Regions from separate parts of the Homo sapiens genome. Here region 2 is linked to region 1. Evidence: fine-mapped expression QTL. A gene starts in region 1. The other region holds a variant in brackets. All regions are shown on one strand. Distances are between the middles of the regions.

Evidence for each region.
Region 2: its variant is fine-mapped to the expression of KIAA1191 in whole blood (TOPMed, PIP 0.97).

Annotation. Positions count from the first base shown.
Region 1 is chr5:176,356,615-176,365,492 of GRCh38, forward strand. It overlaps KIAA1191, which reads right to left and starts at 5,150. Exons shown (of 9, transcript NM_020444.5): 1 at 4,988-5,150; 2 at 3,197-3,304; 3 at 2,867-2,953. The coding sequence starts at 2,894. ARL10 (ARF like GTPase 10) reads left to right here and starts at 8,873. Exons shown (of 4, transcript NM_173664.6): 1 at 8,873-8,878. RefSeq lists enhancers at 4,906-5,225, 8,338-8,587 and a silencer at 8,738-8,878.
Region 2 is chr5:176,408,830-176,417,589 of GRCh38, forward strand. CLTB (clathrin light chain B) reads right to left here and starts at 7,710. Exons shown (of 6, transcript NM_007097.5): 1 at 7,348-7,710; 2 at 1,428-1,474. The coding sequence starts at 7,534. It also overlaps a transcript of ARL10 not described here. RefSeq lists silencers at 7,213-7,292, 7,403-7,502, 7,543-8,002. The variant G/A (reference allele first, on the strand shown) is at 5,733.

The DNA of each region.
Region 1 (8,878 bases):
CCCAGCATGTCGGGTTGTGATGCAGCCACCCCATTCAAGGGCACTCTCAGCTGTGCCAGACCAGGGAGCCAAGTTCATTGTGTTTCGTTTGCTAATCCTTGCATATCAGAACTAATGTCCAGAACCTACCTGAAAGGTAACATTTTCCTGTGGCTAAAATCATATAATAACACTCTCTAAGACATCAACCTGCCTGGCAATAAGTCCAAAACCACAAAAGGTTTCATTTAAACGGCAAGGGGACCAAGCAGCTATCATTATTATTACTATTGCTATTAGTAATAATTAACAAAACCATAGAAATAAAAAGAGGATTAGAGGTTGCCAGGGAGTGGGTGGGGGGAGTGAGGATACGACTGCTAATGGTACGAGGTTTTCCTTTGGAGGTTATGAAAACGTACTGCAGTTTGGATGGGTGTGGTGGCTCACACCTGTAATCCCAGCACTTTGGGAGGCTGATGTGGGTGGATCACCTGAGGTCAGGCGTTCCGGCCTAGCCAACATGGTGAAATCCCATCTCTACTCAAAATACAAAAATTAGCCAGGCGTGGTGGTACGTGCCTGTAGTCCCAGCTACTTGGGAGACTGAGGCAGGAGAATTGCTTGAACCCAGGAGGCGGAGGTTGCAGAGAGCCAAGATCGTGCCACTGCATTCCAACCTAGGCAACAGAGCGAGATTCCATCTCAAAAAAAAAAAGAAAAGAAAAGAAAATGTGCTGCAATTGATCGTAGTGTTGTTTGCACAACCCTGTGAATATACTAAAAATCACGACATTGTTCACTTTCAGTGGGTGAATTTTATGATATGTGCATTACATCTCAAACACACACACAAGCAAATAATAATTACTAAGTCTTCCTCCTTGCTAGACAATTACATCCCTCATCTTATCTAATCCTCATGAAGCAGATATTCTTCCCATTTTCAAATTTTCCATTTTCACAATCAACTTGCCCAATATCACCTAGCTTGAAAGAGTGTGCTGGGAACTGGAACACAGACCTGAGCCGGTGCACACACTCTGCATGCAACACACTACAAAGCATTCACTGAATGGGCACAATCCTATGGCTCGCGACGGCTACACGGAGTTTGTGGTAATCACAGCAACAATGAAAGACAAACTAAAACGGAGCTGATGATGTTAAGACTAGAGATGGATCTATATTGGGGAATACGGGAGACTTGGGGAGCAATTTCAAAAACATCTTAAAGACTCCCACTGAACAGCCATCCTAAAACAAATAAAGTCAGCTAGTATTTACTGGAAAATATGTTCATATAAAGACAGACCAAATGCATTCTGGGCAGTAAATACATATTTATCACTGATTTTTAACTCCTGTTTTTACATATTTTGTTTAATCTTCACAACCCCGAGAGATAGGAACCATCATCTTTCTTCATCATCATACTTTACCGAGAATCAGAAATTAAGCGATTCAGATGTAATTAAAAATCACTTTCCTTTCTCATAAAACAATTCAAGTAGTCATCAATGGTGTCAATAACCCAGAACTTGACTCATTAAGGGTTGCTGTGAGCATTTTCATGATTAAGTTCAATCTGCCATTTAAGCAGGCTGGTGCCTTTTTACCAAGACTTCCATCCCACCTCCCCATCACCCCCAAAAAGGTGAGTTTAATCACTTTGGTACATACTACAAGAACTGCACAACTTATTCTGAATTATTATTTGATAACTAGGAAAGTAACAAACTTGTCATAATACCCTTAAATGAAGTGACTATTCTCTTTAAGTTAAAGTTTCATACTATGGCTGAGCGGCTAATAAAATATTTAAATGATGCCAATCTAAGGCTAGGCGTGGTGGCTCACACCTGTAATCCCAGCACTTTGGGAGGCCAAGGTGGAAGGATCACCTGAGGTCAGGAGTTTGAGACCAGCCTGGCCAACATGGAGAAACCCTGTCTCTATTAAAAATACAAAAATTAGCCGGGCGTGGTGGCAGGCAGCTGTAATCCCAGCTACTCGAGGCTGAGGCAGGAGAATCACTTGAGCCCAGGAGGCGGAGGTTGCAGTGAGCTGAGATCACACCACTGTATTCTAGCCTGGGCAGCAGAGTGAGACTCAAAAATAAAATAAAACTGGCTGGGCGTGGTGGCTCACACCTGTAATCCCAACACTTTGGGAGGCCGAGGCAGGCAGATCACAAGGTCAGGAGTTCCGCCGGGCACGGTGGCTCACGCCTGTAATCCCATTACCTTGGGAGGCCGAGGCGGGCGGATCACAAGGTCAAGAAATCGAGACCATCCTGGCTAACACGGTGAAACCTCGTCTCTACTAAAAATACAAAAAATTAGCTGGGCATGGTGGTGGGCGCCTGTAGTCCCAGCTACTCGGGAGGCTGAGGCAGGAGAATGGTGTGAACCCGGGAGGCGGAGCTTGCAGTGAGCTGAGATCGCGCCACTGCACTCCAGCCTGGGCGACAGAGCAAGACTCTGTCTCAAAAAAAAAAAAAAAAAAAAAGGTCAGGAGTTCCAGACCAGCCTGGCCAATATGGTGAAACCCCGTCTCTACAAAAAATACAAAAATTAGCTGGGTGTGGTGGCGGGCACCTGTAATCCCAGCTACTGGGGAGGCTGAGGCAGGAGAATGGCTTGAACCCAGGAAGCGGAGGTAGCAGTGAGCCGAGATTGTGCCGCTGCACTCCAGCCTGGGCAACAGAGCAAGACTCCATCTCAAAAAAATAAAATAAAATAAAATAAGCCAATCTAGTAAATCTAAATACTCGCTTGGTAGCAGAGATTAACCATTAATATATAGTTCCGATAAAATGGTTTCTGTCTAGCTTAAAACATTAATAAGGGCAAAACATGATTTTACCAAAAAGAATTAAGTTTACCAGGCACTTCTGGTTGTCTTGAAGCCATTGAAAGACTGGGATCCAGGTGCTTTTTCTATACAGAATTCCGAGCTGAGTCCCTGCCACCTAATAAAATAACAAAGGGCATTTTCTTATGGTGAGCAGCACCAATGCTGTTCTTCTGGCAGGCACACAGAATTGAACGGCTTGTTTACAAGGTTGAAACACACATGCAAGAGCCAGTGGGTGACAAACATGCCAATGAAAAAAGAAGGATAAAGTCAAACGTCTCACCACACCTGTGGCTGATCTTAACACCTGTGAGATGACAGAGCTAAGATGCCATACATGGTGAAAAAGTCACCTTACCACAGTGAAATGATGTGATGACTAAGCGGACAGACAGATGTTAATGAGGAACATGGTCCAGCTGCTGCAAAGTAGCAAAGCTTCCCAGGAAGAGTCCATCCAGAGGTTCTAATAACAACAAACAGCCAGCATTGGAACAGCCCGTCAGAGTCTGCCAAACACTTGTTTATTCCCCACAACAACCTTGCTCATTTCATTTTCTTAACTCACAGCAAGCGGCTAGATACTACAGTAGGGAAATTTGTTCTTTATAGCTAACACTATAAACTATTTACAGCGTTTATCTTGTCTTTTAATCCTTGCAGCAAGATGGCAAAGCAGATATTATTTATCCCAATCCCAATTTTTTTTTTTTTTTTTTTTTGAGACGGAGTCTCACTCTGTCGCCCAGGCTGGAGTGCAGTGGCGCGATCTTGGCTCACTGCAAGCTCCACCTCCCGGGTTCACGCCATTCTCCTGCCTTAGCCTCCCAAGTAGCTGGGACTACAGGCGTCTGCCACCACGCCTGGCTAATTTTTTGTATTTTTAGTAGAGATGGGGTTTCACCGCACTAGCCAGGATGGTCTTGATCTCCTGACCTTGCGATCCGCCCACCTCGGCCTCCCAAAGTGCTAGGATTACAAGCGTGAGCCACCGCGCCCGACCCCAGTTTTTTTTTTAAGCTATCTCTTACAGAAAGGCTATCCCAAATTTAAAGAGAAGGAAACTGGCCGGGTGCGGTGGCTCACGCCTGTAATCCCAGCATTTTGCGAGACCCAGGCGGGCAGATCACTTGAGGTCAGGAGTTCGAGACTAGCCTGGCCAACATGGTGAAACCCCATCTCTACTAAAAATACAAAAATTAGCCGGGCATGGTGGCGGGCGCCTGTAATCCCAGCTACTCGGGAGGCTGAGGCAGGAGAATAGCTTGAACCCGGGAGGCGGAGGTTGCAGTGAGCCGAGATCGAGCCACTGTACTCCAGCCTGGGCGACGGAGTGAGACTCGGTCTCAAAAATAAAAATTAAAAAAATTAAAAAAATGTTAAAAATAATAATAAAGAGAAGGAAACTAAAAATCAGAGGAGTTAAGTAAATTTGTCCACGGTCACAGATAAGTGGTCCGTGCGCAAGGTAGGTAGTTTCATGCCCAGTTTACAGGGGAGTTAAAACGAGGGCCTGAGAAAGTTACTCTTGTTTTTCAGCTTGCTACACCGTCCCTCTATCCCGATAGGACTCAGACAGAGCAAACAAGTTATTGATAGTTCTTCACTAACGAGCATCGCAAAGGCCGAATTCAGCCATCCTCCCAGTCCAGGGAGCATTCCCGCCCCAGACACGTCCCCTTCCCCTTTCCCTTTCCCTGTGCCCCCACCCCCCAGCTCACCGTCCCTCTGCCTCTCCTTCACAATATACAAGACGGTGCCGCCAGGATACGAAAGGCCGGCTGCTTCACCCACCCCTCCAGGCTAAGATTAGGGCCAGGACCCTAGCCGAAGGCGGGGTGTGGGGAGATGAGGTTGAGGACAAGCCGCGGGGGCTCGGGCTGGGCTGGTCCCACGAAGCGGAGGGGAAGCCCGTACGGGAGCTGCAGGGCATTCCCGGAGAGAAGCCCCATTACGGAGACCCCAGAGAGCGGAGCCAGGGAGGCAAGAGGCGACCCAGCCGAGCTCGAAGCCGGGATGAAGGGTTAAGAGGTGCGGGGAGAGGGGAGTGGCTTGGAGGGGCCCCGAGATCGGGCCTCGCCGGAAGCGCCCCTCCTGATCGCCAGAGAACGCAGCCCCAAGGGAGGGCCCAGGCCCGCCATCTGTTCACCTGTGATCCTGCTGCCGCGGGACTGCCTGCGGCCCGGAGTCCGGCACTAAAAAGGTTCCGAGGGCCCACGTCTCCCGAGAGGCTGTGGCGCAGTCTGGACCCAAGCCATTGTGAGAGCGGCGGCGATTTCGAAGGTCCCCAAGACCCACTAGGTAGCAGTACCACCCAGCGGGCAGGCAGCACTGCAGATAAAGCCTCCGGAGACCGCGGGATCTCGCGCGAGACTTGGCCCAGCGGAGCACAGGGCATGCTGGGAGTTGTTGTCCACGATCGCGAGACCCGCCCCCTCCCCATGCCCTTCGCCGCCCAGCGAGTTGTGGAGCCGCAGCTCCGAGTGTGGAATCCGCCAGCCCCGAGAGGAAACGCCACACTTCACCACCACTTCCTCAGCGCGTGTGCTGTGCCTGGGTCCGTGACAAGCTAAGGGAAGACGGAGGTAGCATAGTAAAATGACACCCACAAACCCAAGCCCTCAAGGCTCAAAAAGGGCTGCCAAGTGCGAGCACTTGTCATCCTGTTTTTCCCACTTCACGGAGGTGAAGCTGAGACTGGGAGAGATGAGAAGTCACTTCGATTAGCAAGCGGTGCAGTGAGCACGGACTGTCTCCCAAAACAGCGGGGTTAGGCAGGGTTCGTACTAGTAGCTGAACCAAAAAAGGGAACCGACCTCACCTGCCTCCCCTAGGGAAGGCGATCCTAATATCATTTCTCTTTTACATAAAGGAGAGTGAGGCTTAGAGGCGCCAGCTGAGGTGTCAGTCACATCCTGAAGGAAGACTTCTCTTATCCCTGAAGGGTTCACAAAGAAGGCGAAGCAACGAAGTTACAGCAGAATTTGCAAAAATCTATCCACGTTTCTACCCCAGTCCAAAGCTCGCCATCAAAACTCATCTCAGGAGAGCTATGATTGGTGGTGCAGGGTGAATGTCACATTTAGATTTCAGCATTTGAGGCTTCCAGCCGTACTGGCAGAACTGAGAGGCCTTGCTCATGCGACTTGAAACTTAAGCGCTGTTTCCAGACCAGGGTGCTTGAGTGCACTAAGAATTAAAGTCTTTGATGAATTCTATAATTAGCTTATCAACAGCACAATTACATTGCAGTATAATTGTGTGTATATGTGTGCGTGCGTGTGTGTGTTAAAGGTGTTCCTTTGTTAATTTGGAGCTTTTAAAATATGCCATATTTTTTAACCTCTGTGGAAGCAAAGCTGGCACCTTGCTCTTTATCCACCACAGGAAGGGATGTATATCACCTCTCAGTCAGAAAAGGAAGAAATAGCACTTTGCACCCTTATGTAGATCATAAGGTGGGATCATCTCATTTATTTCTTAGCCACAAATACATGAAAACTTAAGACTTTCCTGGAAGTTACTATTTGATTAAAACAACTTTTTCTGGCTGGGCACGGTGGTTCAGGCCTGTAATCCCAACACTTTCAGAGGCTGAGGCGTTCGAGACCATCCTGGCCAACACGGCGAAACCCCGTCTCTACTAAAATACAAAAATCAGCCAGGCGTAGTGACAGGTGCCTGTAATCCCAGCTATTCTGGAGACTGAGGCAGGAGAATCTCTTGAACCTGGGAGACGGAGGCTGCAGTCTGCCTTGTCCTAGGTACCCCCAGTGACTGCCAAGGCTTCCACGTGTGTAGCACGAGGAGGAAGAACAGGAGAAACGACCTGAGTACAGCAGTCGGGTTCTTTTGGCTCTCCAGAGGGGTGACGCCATGTACGGCTGGCTGTAGGGTACATGGGTTGAGAGACCGCCTGTGGCTCTCAGGGCCCAGCAGGGCTACCTCTTTCCCTTTATATTGTCTCAACTCTTCACCTCCTTTTAGTTCGCGATTCCTCTGTACCCCTGGCTCTGGGTCCCAGCCCCTATTCCTTCTGATTTGTCCCCCTTTCCCTTTGACTACATATATATGCTCCTCTCCTCCCAGATAGTGATGTTTTAGCTACATCTTATTTCTTCCGGCATTGATTCTTTTGAAAAATTTATTTCTGGCTGGGTGTGGTGGCTCATGCCTGTAATCCCAGCACTTTGGGAGGCCTGAGATCACACTACTGCACTCCAGCCTGGGCTACAGAGTGAGACTCCATCTCAAAAAAAAAAAAAACTTTATCCCTGATATTTGTGGTACCAATGTCTGAAGCTGTCATGGTCTTGGTGCATAGCACCTATGTGAGAGCACCTATTTCTTTTCCACAAATAATAGACTGTAAACATTTTTTTTTTTTTTTTTTTTGAGACAAGGTCTCGCTCTGTTGCCCAGGCTGGAATGCAGTGGCGCAATCTCGGCTCACAGTAACCTCTGCCTCCCAGTTTCAAGCGATTCTCCTGCCTCAGTCTACCAAGTAGCTGGGACTACAGGCGCCTGCCACCACGCCCGGCTCCACGCCCGGCTAATTTTTTGGATTTTCAGTAGAGATGGGGTTTCACCGTGTTAGCCAGGATGGTCTCGATCTCCTGACCTCGTGATCCGGCCGGCTGCCTCGGCCTCCCAAAGTGCTGGGATCACAGGCGTGAGCCACCGCACCAGCCAAACTTTTAATCTTAGCAATTTTGTGGGTTTTCCCCTCTAAGTGGGTGTATTTTTGAGGAGGAGCTAATTTTTTTTTCTTTTTTTTTTTTTTTGAGACGGATTCTTGCTCTGTCACCCAGGCTGGAGGGCAGTGGCGCAATCTCAGCACACTGCAACCTCCTCCTCCTGGGTTCAAGCGATTCTCCTGCCTTAGCCTCCTGAGTAGGTGGGATTACAGGCACGTGCCACCACGCCCGGCTAATTTTTGTAGAGATGGGGTTTCACCATGTTAGGCAGGCTATTCTCGAACTCCTGACCTCAGGTGATCCGCCTGCCTCGGCCTCCCAAAGTGCTGGGATTACAGGCATGAGCCACCACACCCGGCCAGAAATAAATTTTTCAAAAGAATCAATGCCGGAAGAAATAAGATGTAGCTAAAACATCACTATCTGGGAGGAGAGGAGCATATATATGTAGTCAAAGGGAAAGGGGGACAAATCAGAAGGAATAGGGGCTGGGACCCAGAGCCAGGGGTACAGAGGAATCGCAAACTAAAAGGAGGTGAAGAGTTGAGACAATATAAAGGGGAAGAGGTAGCCCTGCTGGGCCCTGAGAGCCACAGGCGGTCTCTCGACCCATGTACCCTACAGCCAGCCGTACATGGCGTCACCCCTCTGGAGAGCCAAAAGAACCCGACTGCTGTACTCAGGTCGTTTCTCCTGTTCTTCCTCCTCGTGCTACACACGTGGAAGCCTTGGCAGTCACTGGGGGTACCTAGGACAAGGCAGTCAGCCCTAAACATTCTGAAGTCCTGACACTGCTTAATTCAGCCTGACCAGGACCCCAGCAAAACCCCTGTGGTCCGGGAGGCAGCGAAAGAAGGCTAGAGGTGGCGGGGAGCCACGGACCTGGGTTCTATTCCTGCCTCTGCCACCCCACTGCCGTGTGATATCGGGCGTCTTGCTTCAATTTCCTCCCGAGGTCTTGAGGGATGACCGGGAGACAGATCGCTTGGGTTTGAACGCAGGCTACACCAAAGCACTACGATGCGGCGTTGGGCGGGTTACTTAACTCCTGGGCCTCGGTTTTCCCTTCTGCGTGGTATCATTGTAAGGGGTAACGGAGAAAAGCCGTGAGCTAACCCCTGGTGGATGCTAGCAAGCACCGCCGTCTCCCGTCCTCCCCAGGCACAGCCTCTCCTTCCTCCACCCTGCACCTGGCAGGGGGACCGGAGGTCCCCGCGCGCCGGCCAGCGCCCCACCACCCACGCCGCCGGGTCCCGGGCGGCCTGCCGTGACAGCGGCAGTGCATTGTGGGGCTTGTAGTGCGGGACTGGGTCTGGGTGGGTGGGCGCGGCCGCAGCAGTCGC
Region 2 (8,760 bases), 52 kb after region 1:
CGTTTTTTGCAGGATAAAAACACTTAAAGAATTTGTAAACAACCCAGTGAAAGTGAATGCCCCTTTCTTATCCCCATCCCACCCCACCCTTGGGGCTAACCATTGTTAACAGCTGGTACACATCCTTTCAGATATGTAGTGCAAACCTTTAGTTTTATTTTTTTGAGATAGAGTTTTGCTCTTGTTGCCCAGGCTGGAGTGCAGTGGCGTGATCTCGGCTCACCGCAACCTCCCACTCCCGGATTCAAGCTATTCTCCTGCCTCAGCCTCCCAAGTAGTTAGGATTATAGGCTTGTGCCACCACACCCAGCTAATTTTGTATTTTTAGTAGAGGTGCGGTTTCACCGTGTTAGCCAGGATGGTCTCAATCTTCCAACCTCATGATCCACCTGCCTTGGCCTCCCAAAGTGCTAGGGTTACAGGCATGAGCCACCACGCCCAGCCCAAACATATTTTTAAAATTGAAAAAAAAAAAAAAAAAAAGGACCATACTGTGTATATTATTCTGCAAGCTGCTTTTTCCACTTAATATATTGTGGACATCTTTTCACGTCAATACAGGAAGATCTGATTGCCCTTTTTTTTTTTTTTTTTTTTTTTTCAGACAGAGTTTCACTCTCATCTCCCAGGCTGGAGAGCAATGGCACAATCTCAGCTCACTGCAACCTCCACCTTCTGGGTTCAAGTGATTCTCCTGCCTTAGCCTCCCGAGTAGCTGGAATTACAGGCACCTGCCACAATGACTGGCTAATTTTCTGTATTTTTAGTAAAGACGGGGTTTCACTATGTTGGCCAGGCTGGTCTTGAACTCTGACCTCACGTGATCCACCCACCTCAGCCTCCCAAAGTGCTGGGATTACAGGCGTCAGCCACTGCACCCGGCCCTGATTGCCCTTTTTAACAACAGCCTGGTTTTCTAATCTATCTATTCAGTTCCCTGATGCTGGACACTTAGGTTGTCTCCAAATTGTCTGCCATTATAAATAACCCTGCAAAGAATCTGGGTGGCCTTGTCCAATTATTTCCTTTGGGAAAATTCTGGAAGTGGAATCTCTGGATCAAAGGGCCCGCCCTGTGTGTGGAGATGGCCTGGGTTCTGCCTCCCGTCAGTGGTGAGGGAAGGCCTTGCGCTGCCTTCATCTCATGCTGCTGTGGGCCACTTGACCTCTCCCTCCCAAAACCAGACATCACCATGGGCAACCTGAGGCTACTGCCCATCAATCTCGATCTCTAGTGGTCCTTATTCTTCTTCCCTGCCCTCTACATGACAAAAAAAATTCCAAAAACCTTTCTCTATGTTTCCACCCCAATGCATCAGACATAATGAACAGGAGAACCTGGAGCTGTAAGCCTACAACAATGAGGCTTTAGGTTACTGAGACCAGGGCTGTTGGTCCTTACCACTGCTGAGACAGAGCCTTGCTTACCTGAAACACATCTCCATTGACTGTGGTCCCCATGTCCTCAGAACCAGCTGGAAAGAGAACAAGGAGATAGCATTACTCACTGTTTAGCTTATAGCAAGCAGGAAATGGTCCTACATTAGCCCCTCAACCCAAACTCTGTGTATACCCATGTATATATCGACCCACATGCAAACAGACATAATGGATATATATATAACTTAGGCTCAATCCCACCCCTGACTGTTTATAAAGCCTCTCACAGCCATTAGTACATTTTATGTTCACCACAGCCCTGCAATGAAATTGTTGTCAACCCATTTTACAGATACTCAAGCTGAGGCTCAGAGAGGCCATGCTCAAAATCACCCAGCCAGTAATAGCTCCTTACCTACCTGAAATCACTGACCCCTGGCCATGGCTGGGAATGGCCAGATTACCTGTGAAGCCTGTGCCTGGTGAGTAGGCTGAGCTGCTGTAAGCTCAGGGCAGGGGCTACACTGGATAAGGAAGAGAGGGGCCTACGCGTCTCTGCCTGTCCCTGAGGCGCCTTGAGCAACTGCTCCTCCTGGGTGAGCAGGAGTTGCAGTTCCCACCAGAAGCACCTGGCATATTTTTTCTCTTTGTGCCCCTCCCAGAAGGAATTAAGTTTGCCCTCAGCAGTGACTCCTCCCTGTCCCTTTCCTTGACATTTGATTAGTCACAAATTCCTGGGGCTTCTGCTACAACACTGACATTCACAGTTGCCCTCCACTCTCTCCCGCAGCTCAGCCCCAGCCCAGGACCTCACCACCTTGCACCTGCACAACTGCTTTGCCCGCTAGGGGCAAACACCTGGGAAGACATAACTGTGTCTCTTTCTCTTCTCCTGTGTCTTTCCCAGAGACTTGCATGCACCTGTGACTTTGCAGGTGCTCAATAATTATTTGTTGAATAAACAAGTAAATACATGCATGAAAGAAAGACAACGACTGCATGGCTTTTGCCCATTCACAGGCCCCCTTGACTCCAGCCTCTCCCATCCCTCTTTCAAACCAATTGCCAGGGCTGACAGTCTGTAAAACATGCACTTACCTGTGCCTCTCCTCTGACTCAAAATGTCATGAAAACAAACTCCAAAGAAATCCACTTCCCATGGACCACAGTGGCCTATAGCGCCTACTCCTGCCTTGGGGACTTTGCAGGTGCTGTTCCCTCTGCCTGGAAGGCTGCTCCCTCACTCCCTTCAGCTTCTGCTCAAATGCTGCCTAATTAAAGGCCTCCCTGACCACACCCCCATCCACCCCTTGGGCACCCCTTCCTATTCCTCCTGCAGTATTAAGCGCACTTACTACAGCCTGCTGTGTTTATTTGTGTATGTGTTTATTATCTGTCTTCCCCCAACAAACAGACCCTCCATGAGGGTGTGGACTTGGTTTCATCCATGATGAGGCCCACCTACAACAGTCCCTGGAACATAACAAGGACTCAATAAATATTTGCCAGATAAGTACATCTAACCCTGGAACATGAGGATCTCTACAATCTGGCCCTGCCCATTCCTGACTCACTTCCCACCAGCCCATCCCACAAACCCTAAATTCTGGTTTCCTCCTTCTCCAAACACACCACCCTCATCCCCATGCTTTCTTCCTGCTTCCCTCTCTAAAGAATGCTTTTTTGGGCCGGGCGTGGTGGCTTATGCCTGTAATCCCAGCACTTTGGGAGGCTGAGGTGGGCAGATCACGAAGTCAGGAGATCGAGACCATCCTGGCTAACACGGTGAAACCCCGTCTCTACTAAAAATACAAAAAATTAGCCAGGCGTGGTGGCAGGCGCCTGTAGTCCCAGCCACTCGGGAGGCTGAGGCAGGAGAATGGTGTGAACCCGGGAGGCGGAGCTTGCAGTGAGCCGAGATCCCGCCACTGCACTCCAGCCTGGGCGACAGAGTGAGACTCATCTCAAAAAAAAAAAAAAAAAAAGAATGCTTTTTTGGCTCCATTTATTCTCCAAGGTCCAGCTCATAAGTCACCTCCTCTGGGAAGCCCTCCTCTGCTTCCTTTACTTCCCTAGGCACTTACGGAAGGTCTCACTTCCGGGGTATCCCAGGATATCATACAGTATCCTGCACCCTCTTGTGCAATTACTCATGACCCCCAGGGTCCGTGTGTACCCCCTTACCAGGCTCCGTGTCCTATTCAGCTCCTCAGGGCTCCAGCACGGAATGGGTGAGCAGTAACTATTGGCTAAATGGAAGTTGAATTGTTGTTTTGAGGCCTGCTGTTATCTGCAAGGCTCTCAGAAACTGCTGTGCCTCCTAGCAAAAAGCCATGGAGGCCACATGAGGTTAATAGGCAGATGGACAAATAGCCCTTCACCAGCCAGACAGGGCTGTGAGCAGCGACAGTGTGTTTGGCCTGGGGACTCAAGGGAAGGGTACTTAATCCCATGGAAATAATCCCCGGGTGACATAAATCATAATTGACTTTGCTTTCAGAGTCAACCAGTGATTGATTCCAACCAACTCTGTCAGCTGTCACTCCCATTCCTTCAGATAAGGCTTCTCCTGCATGGGTGTCCTGGCCCCTAAATCACAGTGGGACCAATAGCATTTCAGTGGCAGCATCTTCTGCAAAGGGGCTTCTTCTGCTGGGGTGTCTCCTCTAGCAGGGCCTCACGTTACCAGGGTCTATTCCCTGTGATGCCGGTCTGTACATTTGGCCTTCTCGAGAATTTGCACCACCCTACTCCGCCCTGACCAACCCCAGTCTCAGACCCCACATCTACACACAGCTGCCTGGGGTCTACCCTGACCTTCAGAAAGTCTCTCTGCCTCAGCCTCGAGAGTGTTCCTCTGGACATGCAGTTTCGGCCTCCTTAAGAGTCCACACACACCTACACAGCATTCCAAGTACCTGTTCCCACAGTGCTCTCCACCCACCCACTGCCCATCTACCACCGGGAGTCCACACTCACAGGCCAGCAGAACAGGACTGAGACAGAGACACGTCCCAGGGATAAACCCCTGAGGGTTTGCTTCCCTCAGCTGCCTGACCCATTTTGGAACAAGGGCAGAGAGGGTCCAGAACATTCCTGTGAGCTTACGAGGCCCAGCGGGGGAAATGGGCTTGCCCAGAACTGACAGGCAAGTCAGAGCCAGGCCTGGTGCTCAGAAAACTGGGTGTGAAAATGGAAACCTACCCAAGGCTGATGAATGGAAACAAAGTGTCCATCATCCAGATCACCCAGGGCCACAGATCCAGCCAGAGAGGAGGGGCTCCCTGTGGCTCCAGCACAGGCCTACACCAGATACCTCTTTCCCCAGGGGCAACTGAGCCCAGTGTCAGCACAGAGATTGCTAATCTGAGGACCCCAACATCTAAGAGAAGGTGCCTCAGAGGTACTGACTGGCGGCCGCTGCTAAGCCAGCTTTTGCCCAGCTCTCAGCAGGCCAGGGCGCTTTTTCTCTGCCCCATCCAGGCTCCTGGCACACATCCCTGGTCAGGGGAAGATTACCTGTTCAGCACTGCATAGGCTGAGAAGGTCAGATCAATTCTAGCCCATCTGGCCATCCACTGAGCCGCCATCCCTCAACACCTCCCTGCTCCCCGATCCAACTAAGGAGGGCAGCTGAGCCTTTGCAGAGTCAGCAGGTATGCGCCTGGGAGACCCTCAGAAGGCTGTATCCCCGGCACCTCCCTGGAAGAAGCGAGCGTGTCATTGTTTCTCTCCCTGTCACCTCTGGTCTGAGGCCAATTTGTGCCCCACCCCTGCCAAGGACAGAACTTGCCATCCAGACTGTAAGTCCCTGGAGCCCCACCATCCTGGGAGAGGCCACAACCTGCTCAGCTCCCTCAGGCATCTGGCTGCCCTCAGCCTGAATCCCATCTTTTCTCTCCTGAGGTTCTCACAATGGCTCCCCTCAGCAGGACCTCCCCACAAGGCCTCCCTCCTCTTCCCTGCACCCCGACCCCAACAGGCCCCAGTGAGCCAGACTGAGGAAAAGGGTGGTCTCACAGAGGTGTGGTCCAGTGAATACTGGTGCATTAACTGGGGCAGGCATTTCTTAGGAATTCCCTGGGACACGGCAGATTCTGTATTGAGGTGCTGGAAGCTTCCACTTCAGAAGCCCTCCATTGCTGTCTCAGATAGGTGGCAAAAGACCCCATGCTTCTCACCCCACATCCTATCTCCTGCCAGGGAGGTGACTGCTATAGAATCTTTTTTTTTTTTTTTTTGAGACAGGGTCTCACTCTGCTGCCCAGGCTGGAGTACAGAGACGTGATCACAGCACACGGCGACCTACCTACACCTCCCGGGCTCAAGCTATGCTCCTGCCTCAGCCTTCCC[G/A]AGCAGCTGGAACTACAACTACAGCTACATGCCACCATGCCTGGCTAATTTTTGTATGTTTTGTAGAGATGGGGTTTCACCATGTTGCCCAGGCTCCACAGCATTTGAAAGAGCATGGAGCCCAGAGTTGGGAGGCGTGGGATCAAGTCCTAGATTGGTCATTCCTGGCTGTGTGACTCTGGGCAAGATACTCAGATTCTCTGGGCCACCGGTTTCTTGCATGTTACAAAAGCCTGGTTACATTTCTCATATCAAGGAGATACAGAGTTGCTTCAAACTCCTCAGCCACAGGAACTGTCTTATTCATTTCTGTATCCCCAGCGTCCTGACACACAGTAGGTGCTCAGTAAACGTTGAATGGATACAAACATGACTGTGAAGAGCCTTGTAAACATCATTAACCAAAATATGTCTATATGTATATATGTTAGCACTTACTACAACAGGCCCATAAACCTTTCCAAAATGACATCAACAGGAAGTAAAACCTGTTTTGGATGTACCCATGAAGGTGATATCTACTTTTTTACTAAATATTTTACAAAATCATTCTTGCTAGCCAGAACCAGGGCAGAAACATCATTGATAAAGATGATTTCACAGGGACTAGGCCCTGAACACTGAGGTCTGAAGCCAATCACAGTAAATCATAATAGCCCCGGACCACCTTTGGAAAACCATTAAGTCGACAACTACAAAACCCTGAAGGGCCCTACCGCATCTGACTGATGCCTCTTTGTGGCCCACACTCCGGTGTCTAACTCAGAGCCAGACACTTGGTAGGCAGTGTGGTCAGGTGGAGAGGGCTTCAAGTCCGACAGGAACAGGTTTAAATTCACGGCCAGGTGTGGTGACTCACACCTGTAATCCCAACACTTTAGGAGGCAGAGGTGGGAGGATTGCTTGAGCCCAGGAGCTCAAGACCAGTCTGGGCAACATAGCGAGACCCCATCTCAAAAAAAGGAAAAGAAAAAATATATATGTAAAAGAAAAAGAAACAGGTTTAAATTCTTGATCTGCCACTTACTAGTTATTTCAATAGCATACTCCCTTGAGCCTCAGTTTTACCATCTCTGAAATGGGTTCAATCACGTGTATGAAGTGATTAAATGTAACCAAGGCGCTTAGCCCAGCGACTGCCGAATGCCAGGCGGTCACCGGGGAAGGTTAGTGAGTTCCTGGAGCACCCAGGATCCTCTTTTTTCCCAGCTGCAGGAGAGAGCTAAGCCTGAGGGGCCAGGAGGGCTGTGTTCTGCCCACACCTGCACACTTAGCTGGGAGCCTGGGACACCCAGGCTATTAGGAGGCTCAGGAGGGACTCTCAAAACTGAGGTGGGGTTGGATTCCAGAGCCGGGCAGTGGGGAAGCTGGCCTGGGGATGAAATGTCATGACCGAATTCCTGTCCCGGGAGTCACCAGATCCACAGCCCCAGGCGAGGCCTCATCCCCAGCTCGGAAGTCCTACATGGAGATCTCCAAGAAGATTCTTCCCCACGTCTCCCAGCTCCTGCCCCGGGTGGCCTAGAGCAGGCTCTCTTCCCTGTGCCCCTGGGCCCCGGCCGGGGTCCCCCGGGTGCGCGCCCTGAGCCCCTCTCCAGGCCCCGCGCTGACTCACCCCCACTCGTGGGGCCCGGCTGCGCGGGGGCCGCATGGCTGCCGGCAGGTGCCCCGAAGCCCTCGTCGTTCTCTATGCCTGCAATCTCGCTCTCCTGCTGGGCCAGGAAGGCGGCCGCCGGGTCCTCCTCCGCCGCCTCCGGGGCACCGCTCTCCGACGACGAGAAGAAGCCAAAGTCATCAGCCATTTTCCCCGCGCCTCCGCCGGAGCCTCCGCTGCGCTCGGCTCTGCCCGCGCCTGCCCCGCGCTGCGTCCGGCGGCCGCGACGCTGTCACCCGAGCCGCGGGGGAGCCGGCGTCGGCGGGGACGGGCTTGGCGCGGACCGCACTTCCTCTCCGCCACCGGGCCCGGCTGGCTGTCACTGCGGTGCGGGCGCCGCGGCGGGAGGAGCGGAGCCGGAATGCGGTGACGTCACCGCGGGGGCGGGGCCGCAGGGCCGGGAGGTCGCCGAGCAGCGGCCGCAGGAGGGCGCCTCAGGACTGGGCGCAGCGCTGGGCCCGGGACCGGCGCGGCGCTTCCCTCCCTCCGCAGCGGCGCCCAGCTGCTCGCGTCGAGGACACCTGGGCTAGGCACTGCTCCCGCCCGGCCTGGAGGCGAAACGCAGGGCACAGAGTGGCCGTACCGTGCACAGAGCTGCGACAGGAGGCCACCTCTGGCCTCGGGAGCGCAGACCTGGCTCCTGATTCATTCTGCAGAAGTTTCTTCTCCTAGGTTGGGATGTCATGCACCTCATTCTATGAGCCTCCGCCTCTGTAAGAAGAGGAAAATTGAGGCTGGGAAAGGCTGCCCCGCACCTTTTCATGCAAGTCCAGGTCCTTTCCCACTAGGCCGTGTTGTTTTGTGTATTTTTTTGTGTATCTCCCTTGAGGAGGCTTCAGTTCATACGACCAGAGTTTGGATGGCCAGCTAGGCCCCTTAAATGTCCTTTAGGTATGAACCAGCCTGAGAAAGGCAGACCTGGTTTACCCAGGCAGCCTACCACTCTCCACGCTGCCCGCTGCCCTCTGTGAACAGGCTCTGAATGCCTCCTCCCTGCCTGCGCTTTGCCAAGCACCAGGACAGCAACGTTTTATAAAATCCAGCCATGGCCATGCGGAGATTACAATCCGGTGAGACCAACAGATGGCAAATGGCCTGTCAAAGCACTGTGTGTGAGGCGCTGTGACATTTAAACACGGGGTATAGGGAGACGATGCAAAGAAACACCATGGGATTTGGGCTGTCTGCTATTTCTAATGTGGGACTTGAAAGGCAACTATGAAATATGGACTGGAAGAGCGAAAGGAAAGATGTGCCGCCAAGTTGGGGGTGGAAGTGGAGTTGGGGTGAAGGGACCTTCCAGGTGTTTTTTTTTTTTTCTTTTTAATTTTTTTATTTAGAGACAGGGCCTCGCTATATTAACTGGGCTGGTCT